Linked DNA regions of Homo sapiens. The protein of the gene in region 1 interacts with the protein of each later gene in a pairwise test. Each region holds a gene or a part of one and is shown on either strand. Other genes may lie near its edges.

Region 1 (7,039 bases):
TGGTGCTGAAGCTGCTTAGGGCAAAGATTTTAAAATTTCAGAGTGTTGAACTGGGAAAGTGCTTACAACTCCTTGTAACTAACCCCTCCTTGGAAAACTAGCTGTTTTGAGGCAGAAATATTTTACAATGTATTGTTTTAACTGAAGGGCAATTTTTAGCCAAAGAACGTTTAGCAAATGAGCTTTGGTGGTGGGTTTAAAAATATTTCTTCTCTGAGCTGATGCTGACACAGCTTTTCTCCATGTTTGTGTTAAAAGAACACACAACAAAATGCATTTTCTCTTAGTTTAACAAGTTGGAATAAAATACACAATTTTTATAAAGATAAATGTCAAGAAGAAAAACTGAAGTATACTTCCAAGCAAAATTTATTAGATGTCTATTCAAGAAAAACACAATGACCTTTGCTTGTAAGAATTCAAAGTCAATTACCTGGAAGCCAGGTATGAATAGTTTTTTCTTTTAAAATCAGATACAGAGAGTAGAAACAGTAATTTTTCTTAAATATGACAGGCAACAGATATTGAAGTCTTTTCTCATAAATGGCATCAAAGAGAATTATTCATTTATCAGCAAAGCTGCATGCAGTTGACTTAATTTCAAACCTGAAGCCTTTAAAATATGAAGCTGGTTATGAACTTGACAGAAATCAAGGTAGGCTACTCAACGATGTTTCTTTACCTTCTTCCTAATGAAATTCCCTTGTCATCAGTCAGTAGATATGTACATTTCATTTGGCTTCTACGATCTTTTAACTTCATAGATTTTTGCATAAATGCTATCTGACAGAATCACACTATCTAGGGGTGCTTGTGATCTGTGAGATAAGGAGAGGCTAGTCTGCTGAAAGTGTTGTCGCAGGATAAAGACCAAATTAGGAAACGCCCCTGTTTTCTCAACAACTAGTCTGTACAAAAAAAGAGCAAACATATGTACAAAATTCTAGAGGCTACGTACATTGTGAAAAGATCAATATCACTGTCCATGAAAGAGATGCCATAAAAAGTTTTATCTGTAAGGTGCTCAAGATCCAAAGATGAACAGTTCTTATGCAAAGTCATAAGAAATACAAAGCTAGTTTTCGGAGCAGGTGTAATTCAGGCACTGTGAACCATATTAAACCTTCCAGGTCCCAATATCATTTTTTAAATTTCTGCTTCAGGGCAGAAAATAAAACCTGAATGATTTAACATTGCTTCTAAAAAGTGCCTAATTTATTCCTAGGAAATATTTTACACACACCAGGAAAATCAGGCTCAACATATTCCTGTCCTCAAATGTAGCCAGGATTCTGAGTTCCATAGAAGAAAAATAATTATTATAGTAAAAATAATTGTAGTAATCCTAATCCTTGCTAAAACCAACTTTAATACTTGTGATGCTTCTGTACTCTATTTCTATAAAATAATGTGTGAGATTCTATTACATTTCCATAAAATGTACAACATATCATATGGATTATATGTTCTCATACAATCTCAAATGTGTATGTGTACACACAGTGAAATCTTACCTACTAGTATTGCTTACAGATACTTTCAGGTGTCTGTTAGAATAATTCTTTGCACCTCTCACTAACACTGCTTTTACTTACATTTTTTCAGATAAATAAAACACTAAGAGCTCATTGTTCATGATGCTGATCATTACATTTTAATATAAAATAGCGATGCAACTTTACAACACAATAGTTTTCCCCTGTAGCCTAGCTCAGCCTCTTGTATTGTCATGATTATTACCGAAGGCTTTTATTTACTTACTGTTTGCACTTCTAAAAAATGCAAACAAATTGCAGAAAAAGACTCCTATTTGAAAACTCACATTCAATCAGCAAAATCACACTCATCCAAATTAACTCGCCTCCTCTTGCTTTAAAGGTTGTAATCACTGTGCATATTACAACATGTATGTGCAGGCAAACAATAGCTAAAGTACAGTTACAGTTGTCATATTGTGTAAACCAAGACACTAGGCAAACTTGTGAAAAGAATACACACTGCCAAGCGAAGAATATGAAAATGCAAACCACAGCATTCCCCAATAAACAATTTTCTGGTCGTCTTGGGGGAGAACATCGCCTGGGGGGAGATGTTGAAATGGAGCCACGAGGCTGGACAGCCTCCTGGAGACACTTTTTTTTTTTTTTTTTGCCTCAAATATTTGACCATTTTTAAATATCATGATTTTTTTCTTTCTGATCCCACATTTTGACGTGTCAAAGCTTAGAGCAGGAAGTAGGAATCCACACTTTCACGGAGGGGGACCAGCCTGCCATGTCGTCCCCAGGCTCACAGCAGCGGCGGCTACTCTGCTGGTGGTTTGGTGGCAGGTGGAGATGGTGACGGCGCATTGGAAACCGTAAGGCATGACAACGGGAGGCCCGCGGGGTGTTTCAGGCGCGTTGACGCAGGTGCATGGCTGGCAGGCGGCCTCTACAGAAGGAGGGAGCGCAATTCACAGCCTCTTGACGTAGTTTCCGGGGAAAGTACCAAAGAATTTGGTTCTTCTTGAGGTCCCTGAAAATAGAAGCGAGTCATGAAAGGGGGGTGACAACGATATCAGTTCATACACATGGGCTTGAATACTTCCCATTTACAAGGCCTCGGAAGACAGCAAGCCCCGAGGGGTTTGGAAAAGAAGGCAGGCAACTCACATGAAGCCCATAGGCAGACAAAATAAGCAGTGTTAGCTGGTTGCCTGACGCTCTCACTGCCCCTCCGGCATAAATGCTGCGCTGCCATCGCGGCAGGCTAAACAGAAATGCTGAGCCTCCCAAGCTAAAGGGAAAGTCAGCCCTGCTGAGGAGGGGGGCGGAGGAGCTCAGTCACTGAGGCTGCCACACCAGAGTCGGGGGTGAGGGATCAAGGCGAGGCTGACAGGTGACAGGGTGAGTGGAAAATCCTAAGAGCAAAGCTTCTCAGGGACCAGCAACCCGCGCAACACAGGTGCGACATGAAGACATCATCTGTGGCAGGCTGTCGCTGTTCCAACAGTTTTATCATCTTACAGAAGATCATGGTCAGTGCCACATCATTTATTTAAAAACAGCACTGCCAGAGTCCTTCATCGAGTATACAATTTTTCAACAATTTACAAATCATTAATGAAAAAAAGGATTAAGCACTATTTGTGTGTGGGAGTTCTATCAGTGGCATGATTTTTAACATGGTGTGTGTTTAACCACACGCACAAATGGCTATCATAATTATGTTCGCCTCTGGTTTCAAATAATGTAATTCCTTGGACACTTCTTGTAAAAGTTGGTGCACTAAATTGCTAAATTCTTCTTTAGGCAGCGCAGATGGACCGGATAAGGGTCTCTCAAGCTTCATCTGTCTCCTATATCCTGGCACTTACTGCCTTGGTTTGATGGCTGTTTTTCTTTTTCCTTGGCTAGGCAAGCCATTTTACGTTTCTCCTCCCTCCTCCTCCTCCCTCCTCCTCCTCCTCCTTGTTTTTGAGATGGAGTTTCGCTCTTGTCGCCCAGGCTGGAGTGCAGTGGCATGATCTCGGCTCACTGCAACCTCTGCCTCTTGGGTTCAAGCAATTCTCCTGCCTTAGCCTCCTGAGTGGCTGGGATTACAGGCACCTGCCACCAAGCCCAGCTGATTATTGTACTTTTGGTAGATACGGGGTTTCACCATGTTGACCAGGCTGGCCTCGAACTCCTGGCCTCAGGTAATCCACCCGCCTCGGCCTCCCAAAGTGCTAGAATTACAGGCATGAGCCACCGCACCCGGCCTTTTTTTCTTCTTTTAATGGAAATAAAATCAGAGGCTTGTGGCCGCACCAGGGCCTCAATTCTTTCATGATTTTGCCACCGATGGATGTCTAGAGTGAGCCCTCCTCTCCTCTCACCTTTCCTCTCTTCCATTCTCTGCCCTGCAGCCTGTGTTTCCTTTTCACCTCTTTCTGTGGCCCAGTGTAAAATACTTTTGTCTACAAATGTTTTCCCAGAAGACCTCTCGTCTTTTTTTTTAGGATGGTAAAGATGAAGTTGCCTTTTAAGTGGGAAGAATGGAACGTCTCTCTGCTTCCACCACAAACTAAAGTTAAGGTGAGTCACTGAATGTTCGGGCATCTACGTCAGACCTAGGAAACGGGAGAGCTGTTCACTTAATCTCACTCCCTCTGAAATTAGATTCTCACTGTGGACAACTAACATTTTCCACAGCACAGAGCGTTGATATTTCTCTTCTGGGGACCATTTGTTGTTGTTGTTCTTAGATCTCAATCTTTCCTGGTTTTTGCTATTTAAAGAAATTGTCTTCTCTCAGTTGAGTTGGAAATAAAGCTCGCAGAAAATCACACATAGCTGAAGCAGTGAATACTAAACTATATTAAAAATGCAATAGCCTTGGGATTACATTGTGCATATGAATGTCTGAAAGATCAAAGGCATTACGAATTCAAAGGAAGCTCGGCCATCACAGCAAACCACGGGAGTGAGCAAACTCAAGCAAATTACAAAATAGCCGAAGGTGCCTGAGGAAGAAGCGCACATACCCACAAACCAGCCGTCATCACACTTTTCCATGACATCAATGACATCACTTTCTCTGAGCTCCAGCTCATCTTCATTCCTGGGAGTATAGTTATACAGAGCCTGAAACCTTAAACAGGACAAGGGAATGTGTTTAAAAACATCTTGACACCTTCATGAAATATAGAAGATAGAACAATATTCATTCTTCCTTTAACATTCCTATTCTTAACAACATTCTGTTGGGTGGTACAAGCCTGGTAAGCATGTAAATAGCATTCTATTGGATGGTACAAGCCTGGTAAGCAGGTACATAGCAATATGTAGATCTTCACAGGCATTAGAACACTCTAACAACATTTTGAAACTCACGAGGAATATCCATGAAAATTGTAACATTCATAAATTGGATTAAAATATGTCAACATGTATAAGTCAGACCCGCATTTCAGTTGTCCAGCCATCTAACGTCTATCATTTAGACATTAAATAATAGTACAAAATATAAAATAAGTGATATTTGTATTATTTAACTGTTTAAAAACAAGAAGGAATCACAATTTTAGCTAGCCATAATCAGAAGCAAATAATGGGGGCTTGAGAATTGAATTTTCAAAGGTTCTAAATGGAGATAGACAAAATGTGTCAGACATGTCTTTTTAATCACTCTGTGTGAATTACTATACAAAGGAAAATTATTTTTTTTACTAAGAGGAATTCTTTAGATCAGTTTAATGTTATGGTTTGGATCAGTGTTTTCTGAGGATGTAGAATTGGAAGATTTGATGTAATTAGCCTATGAAGTTGAGTAGATGTATTCTATGTGCAGTTATTACTGATTCCATTTCAAGCAGACTATGGACATAAGTCTCTTTTTAAAATGAGTCCCAGAAAAATTGTATTTGATTTTAAAACTCTCTCTTGAAATAATTTTATATAAAAAAGAATTATTGATAGAATGCTATCACTTTCCTTTCCCGGCCTGAATTCTTTGACAGCATATACTGTGGTGGAAATTGATCAATAATGAATTCAGACACTGAATTTGTGGTAAGAAAACACCATACATTATAATAAATAGTAACATGGGCTGGTGTTTTTGGAAAATGAAGGCGAAATTACTGTAGCTGAGAAGGTCAAGAAGAATTTGATAGGCAGTTAACATGAAAACTTCTTCATAATAGTACTAAAATATTACCAGTACTGTGAGGGGGTTTTTAAAAATTGGGAATTTGTTTCTGCTGCTTTCTGTAACAGTCATGTCATTCTGCTAATGTGAGAAAATAATTACCACTTTCTAGGGTATTTTAGATTTTTTCATGCCAACTTAAAAAAGTTGATAATCTTGACTACCGCTCCGGAACAAGAATGATTTATTTTTAATTACTTTATGAGTCAGAAAATAATATTTTGGTAGAACAAAACTATTCTATCATTTAAACTCAAATCTTATGTCATTAATAAGCAACAGTGACCTACTGGCTTCCCCCCGTTCATCCAGCATTTGGACTGGGGGAGCTGGATAGAGTTGGCTTCAGAGAATGCCTAACAACATCCCCTAGAAAATATTGTTTTCCCTGGCCTGGCACCAAAGCCTGAAATTTCAACATTAGAGGCTTCTTCTCCTGTTAAAACTTCATCCTTCCAGTAGACCTTACAGCCACTTATATCCTTTTGAGCATGGGCTTCTGAGGCCTTTTCTTGAGAGAGGGGTTTGTGATTATGGGGAAGGGCAGAGAAAGGCAGCTAGCATCCCAGAGTAGTGGCCAAAAAGACAGGCAGGTGTGGAATACAGAAACGTCACCTGATTTGGATGTTTGCATGTGGCCAGCTTTGCTAGGGGTAGTCCATTTATTTTGTTGCTTGTGTAAAGAATTTGATTTGGAGGCTGCTCAGGTGAAGGGGTGGTATCTTTTGTGTATCTGTGGGGAAAGTTCACGGTCCCTTTTCCAGTTTCACATTTGAGAGAGATGGTGGTTCCTGGGCTGCTGTTTTGATGGATACACACGGCATTTCTCACTTTGGGAAAACTGATTCTTTTATTGAGCTTCTCAGGCTTGAACCCTGCCCAGGCTCATCTCCACCCACTCATGGAGACCGGTTACCTAAGGCTGCAAACCTCAGCTGCTGGAAAGAATCTCAAGGTCTCAGAGCTAACGCAACAAAATTGGCACAGACTCCTGCTTCATTTTTGTCTGATGAAAGCCAGCATGTTTGTCCAAATTTATTTACCATTCTGGTTTAATTAGACCACAGAAACAAAAACAAAACAAAAGAAAACCCACGGAGTTTTATGGAAACGTAAACACACCTTCAGGAAATCCTCCTGCCTCTCCTGGCTTTCAAAGCCAGTGTTGCACAATGGGAAATGAAGACAAATCCAATGTTAAAAAATGCTGTTGTGAAAGATGTGTTGGTGAGGTGAGTGATGGTGGTGGGGTAAGGATGCCTCAAAAAGAAAGGTGTCTTTTAAACAGGAAATGCTGAGCCAGACTGGAAGCCCTCTCGATAACTTGCAACTTTTTCTAGAACATATTTCACTAAAACTCTGAATT
Region 2 (7,039 bases), 1.0 Mb from region 1:
GTAAGAAAGACTGGCTAATGGTAGTTTTCATTAAAAACCTTTACAAGACCATTGCATCACAAATATACAGACACTATAAAAACTGTGTCATGGTGGTTTTGGTTCTAAACAGGTATGCAGAAGGTCCCCGTTACACTTTCCAATAATGAAAAATGTTTATAATTCTAAATACAGCAACCCATGTAAGACATGTTCATGTATCTGATCTCTCCTTCATCCTATGTACAGCTAGAAATGAATGACTACACTGAAATGTACTAACAAAATGTCACACTTCAGTGGAAAAAGACAGAATGAAACCCTGGTTATAGTAAAAAAAAAAAAATCAGGGTGCTAGATAATGGCACTGACACCACCAAAATTCAGTTGAAACAAATGCACAAAATATCTTGGAAATCTAGTTAAAACTATGAAAAATCAAATCTGTACATAAAATTTACAAAAAAAAGAGACAGGAAAATTAAAATAATCAAATCTATATAAATACATGAATCATGCTGACAACACAGGACTGATTTTTCGTTTGATTATTTTAACACAGACAGATGTAAATCCCAAAAGACGTTGGGAAATGGCACAGCCGATGAAAACCTCACGATGACAGTAGTTGGGACACTGGAAATGGCTAGCACGTCCAGAGGCGCAGGATCCAGCGCAGCCATGCCCATTCGGCTCACCAAAAAAAGCTTGGAAGCACTGCTGCAAAGAACAGCGCGGATTACTCACATCACCTCTAGGTTCACTAAAGTCAGGCACTTTGGGGGGAGTTGAGAGTCAGACTTCCGTGTGCTGCTGGGAATCCAGGGGCGGGATCGTCACCTCTTCGAAGTGGCCGTCGTCCCCGCTCTCATAGTCACTCATCATGACCTCGGACTCCACTTCGCAGCAGGCTGACACGTCAGAGCAGGAGGCGGTGGAGGCGTACACAGACATGGGCATGCTCTCGACAGCGGGCGCCTCGAAGTGTCTTTGATACCCTGGCGGGTAAGGGGCATGGGGTTCTCTACAAGTACTATTCTCACCAGTGCCTTTTGTTTGAGGTTCAGACATATCGAGGGGATAAAAATTGGGCAAATACTGATTCAAGTTGAACCTCTGCCGGTTTCTTGATGAAGAACCCAAGCTACCCGCGGCAGGCATGTCTCTAGGAGGGTGGATGGATTCAAACTGATTGCTGAATTCGGGCGGTAACGGTGGTAGCTCATCAGCTGCGGGGAAGTCTTCTGGGGGTGGAGGAAAATCACTTTCGATGTCGTAGCCTCCAGGGTAATAGTCCGTATCGATGGCGTTTGGATCTGCTGAGTACAGGGGTGTCTGCTCATCAATCACCTCATAGTTGGGGAACTCTTGTATGTCCGGCAGAGGAACGCTTGGCATCCAATCTGATGTATCCCAGTGATACCCTTGGTGGAAAAGAAAACAGATGTCAGTGTGTTTTCTCCTAAGCTTTTGTGCCATGGAAAGAGAGCTCAGTGTATCAAAGACACAAAGATGCAACCGCATTTATGCCTTCATTCAAAGTTCACCACTGGAAATTCCTCGTCTTTGCTTTGAAGACATCCCCCAACCCACTCCAGTTTAAAGACCCCTATGAACTAGGCTCTAGTTCTAAAATGTGGACTTACAGTTTTATGTACGCAACTAACATTCAAGGAAACAAAAGGAGTCCTAAGAGAAATGGGATGCTAGCATCTAAATTATATACATTTTTCTACAAATGATTCTAACCATCCTTCTGGCTTTTCTTCTGTAGAACCCACTGCTCTGTAGGAAGAAGAGTACTGATCCAGTCTCAGGACATTAGTGAAATATCCAGTGTCACTTGATCTGCACTACTTCTCATTAAAAAAATACTGATTAATGCAACTTAAAAAAATTTTGCATTTCTATTTTTTATAGAGACAGGGTCTCACTATGTTGCCCAGGCTGGTCTTAAACTCCTGGCCACAAACAATCTTGCCAATTCAGCTTCCCGAAGTGCTGGGATTACAGGTGTGAGCCATCAGGCCCAGCCAATGCAACTTTTTAAAGTAATAAAAGTAACCTTTAACATGCTAAAGTTTAGAAAATAAGCTTCCTTCATAATAATGTAGCAAGTTTAATATTAAAATTACTATTTTTCATTAACCCTCAGACAACAAATTAACTTAATATAGGTATGTATCAAAGCATGCCAATTCAAGCAAAATACAATTGAACAAGCGTTGCAAGATTATAACACAGCCTCTGATACACTGTAACAATCAATCTGTGTTACTTCCAAAAGGACTGTGATCCTTTTAGACTATATAAAGCACCACTATTTTAAAAAAAAACTTCCAATTTTGGAATAGTTTTTTTTTTTTCCTCCTTAGGATTTAAAAAATCCTTGGAGAGGCGGGAGAAGGTTAGGCAATCCGTGCTTCAAATGCAATGCGCACACACATGCAGCCGTGTACTTAGTTACTGCTGCAAACACTGGGCGACCCAGCGTAGTCAGTCAGCACTGGGGCAAGGCTTGACCCATTGTTTTTAGTGAGTATCAATGAATAACTGGCATGCATAAGTCACCTCTTGGTTTGCTGAGGTCAGGAGCAGCCAAAGATTCTTTTGGTGGCAGAGTAGAAAAAAAAGAAAACATTTGTAATTAAAACAGTCGGCTGAAAAGGCAATAAAGGTAAGTACACAGAACAATGAAAACTGCTTACAGAGGCCCAATCAGCCATACAGCATGTCCTTACGCCAGTATCTATGACAATTCCAAATGGCTGAGAAATGTATGTACCACAAATAAAATGGAATATGGAAGTGGAGGAAAGTGACTGCGGAATGAGGAACCAGAAATTTGGCCAGAAAACTCAAATATTACTTTCTTTTCCTTGTTTCTGACAATCACAGCCTGAAAACACAGAATTTCCTTAGGAATAATGAAAACAAAACAAACAGGCTCTAATAAAATATAAACTGATCAGATTACATAGGTGATAATCCAAATACATCTACAGCTACATAATGCACACACTTTATAGCACACTGCAACTTCAAAGGACATTAAATTCAGAGGAATTCATAGGCAAACTTAGATACTTAAAGACAGATGTACAAGCTGAAGATCTCTCCAAACTGTATGTATTTTGAATATGCTTTAATATTGACACTGTGAGCCATTCCCTAAAGAGACCACGGCTACACTTACCCCATGTCTGTAATTACACTTGCCCTGCCAGGGCCCCGCATCTATACACAGAAGCCCAGCAGGAAGTGTAACCAAACGCATGTAAATCCCACTATCAGTTAGGGCCATGAGACGCCTGCCCAGGCCCTGGCTAACCTTCAGGTTCTCTCTTTGAAATGGGGTGAAAATCCGTTAGAGTTGTTATGAGGATTAAACAGGATCATGCAGGTTAAGCACTGTTAGAAACTATCAATAACTGTGAAAGTAGACATCACAGCAGAAAAACGGTCACATCCGTGATTTTTTAAACAAGGCTTTCTATGCATTCAACAGTGTTATAATTTGGGACAAATATTTGATTGATAGTTCACTTCTAGAAATTTCAGTAATTTTAAAAGACTGTGGTGTCTCTAAAACATGAATACGCCGGCATTTAGGTAACATGTATCTACAGAATCATTTTTAAGTCTAGTAACAAAAGCAGCAATTCCTTTAAACAAAAAAAGATCAACAACTTTTGTTACGTAGGCACTAGTAATAGCTTTCAACTTTAAATTCCATGTGCACTTCTTGGATATGCCAAAAAATATTTGTCAATGAAGGAGACTGCAATGAAGGAACTGTTGAAATTCTGCTTCTATAAGCTTCAATAATATTTAAAATGCTGAAGGTCATCAGTTTAACACTAAAACTTCACTAGACAAAATACAGGTATGTTTCTGATTTGCCCAGTGAAAACATGGTACTTCTTAGGAAAAGAAGTGTAGGCGTCATCAGTAACTATAACCATGAACACTGGAGTATCTAAGCCTCTTCTGCCTGATAGCAAATGGGGCCCAGAGCTATCCTCCCTCCTCCTGAACCTTGACAGCATCATGTCCTAGCATAAAGGATCCCCCGAACTCTATGATGACGTCTGTGTACTCGATGGCCTCTGTAAGCAGTTCTCGAGTGGGATCTCTAGACCGGCACCATCAGAGCTACCTGGGAACTGGTGAAAAATGCAAATTCTAAAGTCCCAACCCAGACCTGTTGGATCAGAAATGCTGGTGCTGAGAACCAGCAATTGGGCTTTTAACAGCCCTCCAGATGATCTGATTCACATTACAGTTTGAAAAGTACTAGCCTGTGTCTTCCCCATGTGATGAATTTCAGTGCACTAATAAAGGGCTATTTTAATTTAAAATAATTTGGGGAAGGTGCTCAATGTCCTTTCTTACAACTCTGAGCAGATAAAGCTTCACATTAAATAATTTTCACTAAACCAAATATGAAAATATTCTTTTACCATGCTCTACACCCTTTTCTTTGATCATACTCAGGGAAAAACCAAAAGTGAAGAGTCAGTTACAGGTTAATTATGAAAGCTTTACATTATTCAAGTCTTATTCCTGTACATACGAAGAAGAATTTTTGTTTCAAAAAAATTTTAGGTAAAATTACTTCTGAACTTTTTCTTGATTGCACCACCTACAGATAAGCTCTCCAGATCTCATGTAAATCACTATGAATGGTAAAAAGGAACAAAGACATAACATACATTGAGATATTTTTTGCAAAGCACTCATATTACGTATATACACACCTGCATAAAATAAAAGGACTCAACCCCCTCAAAACCACAAACTGTTTTTTCCTACCATTGCAATAGCAATGCGGCCGAGCTCTACGACACGGCTGCTGCAAGACACAGACACAAGCACGAGCACTTACAACTGTACCTTCTGTGCTCACCGTGTCAACCACAGCATTGACAAGGTGCATTACGGTCACTATGGAAGCTTGCAAAAAGGTACAAAAGCAGTCAATTAGGAACATCTTCAGTTAGTTAGAAAACAGTGCATGAAATAAAGTTTTGTATTATACCATTTCTACCTCAGATTCCAACCGATGAGTGCTTTAATACAACCACATAATGATGCGTGGTCTCCTCACTGTTAGCTGTGTGTCTCAGAGACTTTTTTAATCGAGCTATATATTTGTTATTATTAATCAAAGGAATAACGTAAACATATTTTATTGGAATTTAAACAAAAAAACTTTTAGCTTTAAATTTTTTCACAATTACAATTATGCATCATGCCAGGCCAAAACGATTCTTATTTTAACATCTTACAGGCAAGACTCGACATTCCAAGACTACAGTCTGTGGTTCGCCACTCTTCCGGCTGCTTAATCACTCACACATTGTCCCCCAAAAAAAAGAAATTGAAGGAGAAACATATGCAATCTAAAACAAGAATGTTTTTGTCCCTGTTCTGATTGCTTTCCCTGCAAATTTCTCGTCTGTTTGCAGATGGACTAATCGCTGGTGAGCTAATGTACGAGTATAGGAGGAGACTCTGTCCGTCTGTTTCCTGTGTAAATTCCCTTTTCATTTGTGTATCAGATTGTTTTAAAATAACTATGCCAAGGTAAATATGTACGCATGTGGTAGGCAGAAGGCTGGCCCTCAAATAGTCCACGTCCTAATCCCAGGAGCCTGTGAATATGTCACTATACATGGCAAAAGGGACTTTGTTGACGCGGTTCAGATAAGGAAATTGAGATGAGGGATTTCCCTGGATTACCTGGGTGGGCCCAGTGTAATCATAAGGGTAACTTTTCTGCACAGAGGCGTTCCCAGTTACGGCTGGGGGGAGCTCTGCTGACAGAAGGGTGGTCAATGAAACACTGTGTTGCTGTCTCTGAGATGGAAGAAACCAAGAGCCAAAGAATGTGGGCAGCCTCTAAAAACCAGGAAAGGAAGGAAAACAGGTTCTTCCCTCGAGCTGCAGAAGGCAATGCAGCCCTACTGATCGCATGACTTAAGCCCTGTGAGACACAGGGGTTGGGCTTCTAAGCTACAGAATGACAGCAACACAAGTCTACATTGTTTTAGGCCACAAAGTTTGTGGTAATCTGTAATGGCCCTGGAAAACCGGGAATACGACGCAGGAACAGACTCTCAGCAGACTTTCAGTTTACAACTGATAATTACATTATGGTAATGAGTAAAATAAAAACACTCCTGTATATATGTTTTTTCTCTGCATTGTACTATCTGGAAGCTAGTTTTCATAACTAATTTGACCATAACTTATTGAAAGCACTTGGGACTATTTTTTTTTTTGAGACAGAGTCTCGCTCTGTCGCCCAGGCTGGAGTGCAGTGGCGTGACCTCAGCTCACTGCAAGCTACAACTCCCGGGCTCAGGCCATTCTCCTGCCTCAGCCTCCCCAGTAGCTGGGAGTACAGGTGCCCACCACCACGCCCGGCTGATTTTTTTTATATTTTTAGTAGAGACGGGGTTTCACTGCCAGGACGGTCTCGATCTCCCAACCTTGTGATCCGCCCGCCTTCACCTCCCAAAGTGCTGGGATTACAGGCGTGAGCCACTGCGCCCGGCCACCTGGGACTATTATTAAGAAGACTGATGTTCCAACAACAAGAACTAGAAAGAAAATGCTGATAAAATTCTGAAATGTATTTATAAAGAGCATTTAGGGGCCAAGATATAAATTATTACATAAACTGGAAACAGGAACTTCTTAGAATTAAAATTGATAAAAGACATAATTCTATCTTGTTGGTTTAACAAGCAAAGCTATGTCCATACACCCTATTCCTAATCAACACAGGTATATTTTGATACCATATATACGGTATCAAAATATACCTGTGTTGATTAGGAATAGAGTGTGTATATATATATATACTTGAAAGTATATATATATATATATATATATACTTGAAATCAGAAATGATAGCACATACTTATAGCTATCTTTAGTTTGAAAAATGACTGCAATAGATAATGACTATATGGATTTATGGACTATATGATGTATTATGGACTATATTACTCTGGATTGAATAATTATTAGTGGGGTTACCTTTTCCCAC

What was found. Proteins that work in one complex are often made in the same cells at the same time.
Region 2: the proteins of SORBS2 (region 1) and FAT1 interact in a two-hybrid assay, tested with the Homo sapiens proteins (one study listed by BioGRID).

Annotation. Positions count from the first base shown.
Region 1 is NC_000004.12:185,585,172-185,592,210, forward strand, and holds the end of SORBS2 (sorbin and SH3 domain-containing protein 2), read right to left. Parts: intron 6,906-7,039; exon of another isoform or gene 6,734-6,905; intron 4,615-6,733; coding exon 4,508-4,614; intron 4,059-4,507; exon of another isoform or gene 3,983-4,058; intron 3,020-3,982; exon of another isoform or gene 2,754-3,019; intron 2,518-2,753; coding exon 2,456-2,517; 3' UTR 352-2,455; downstream 1-351. UniProt on the Homo sapiens protein: Adapter protein that plays a role in the assembling of signaling complexes, being a link between ABL kinases and actin cytoskeleton. Can form complex with ABL1 and CBL, thus promoting ubiquitination and degradation of ABL1.
Region 2 is NC_000004.12:186,587,818-186,594,856, forward strand, and holds part of FAT1 (protocadherin Fat 1 isoform 1 precursor), read right to left. Parts: intron 2,587-7,039; coding exon of another isoform or gene 2,551-2,586; intron 1,404-2,550; coding exon 775-1,403; 3' UTR 1-774.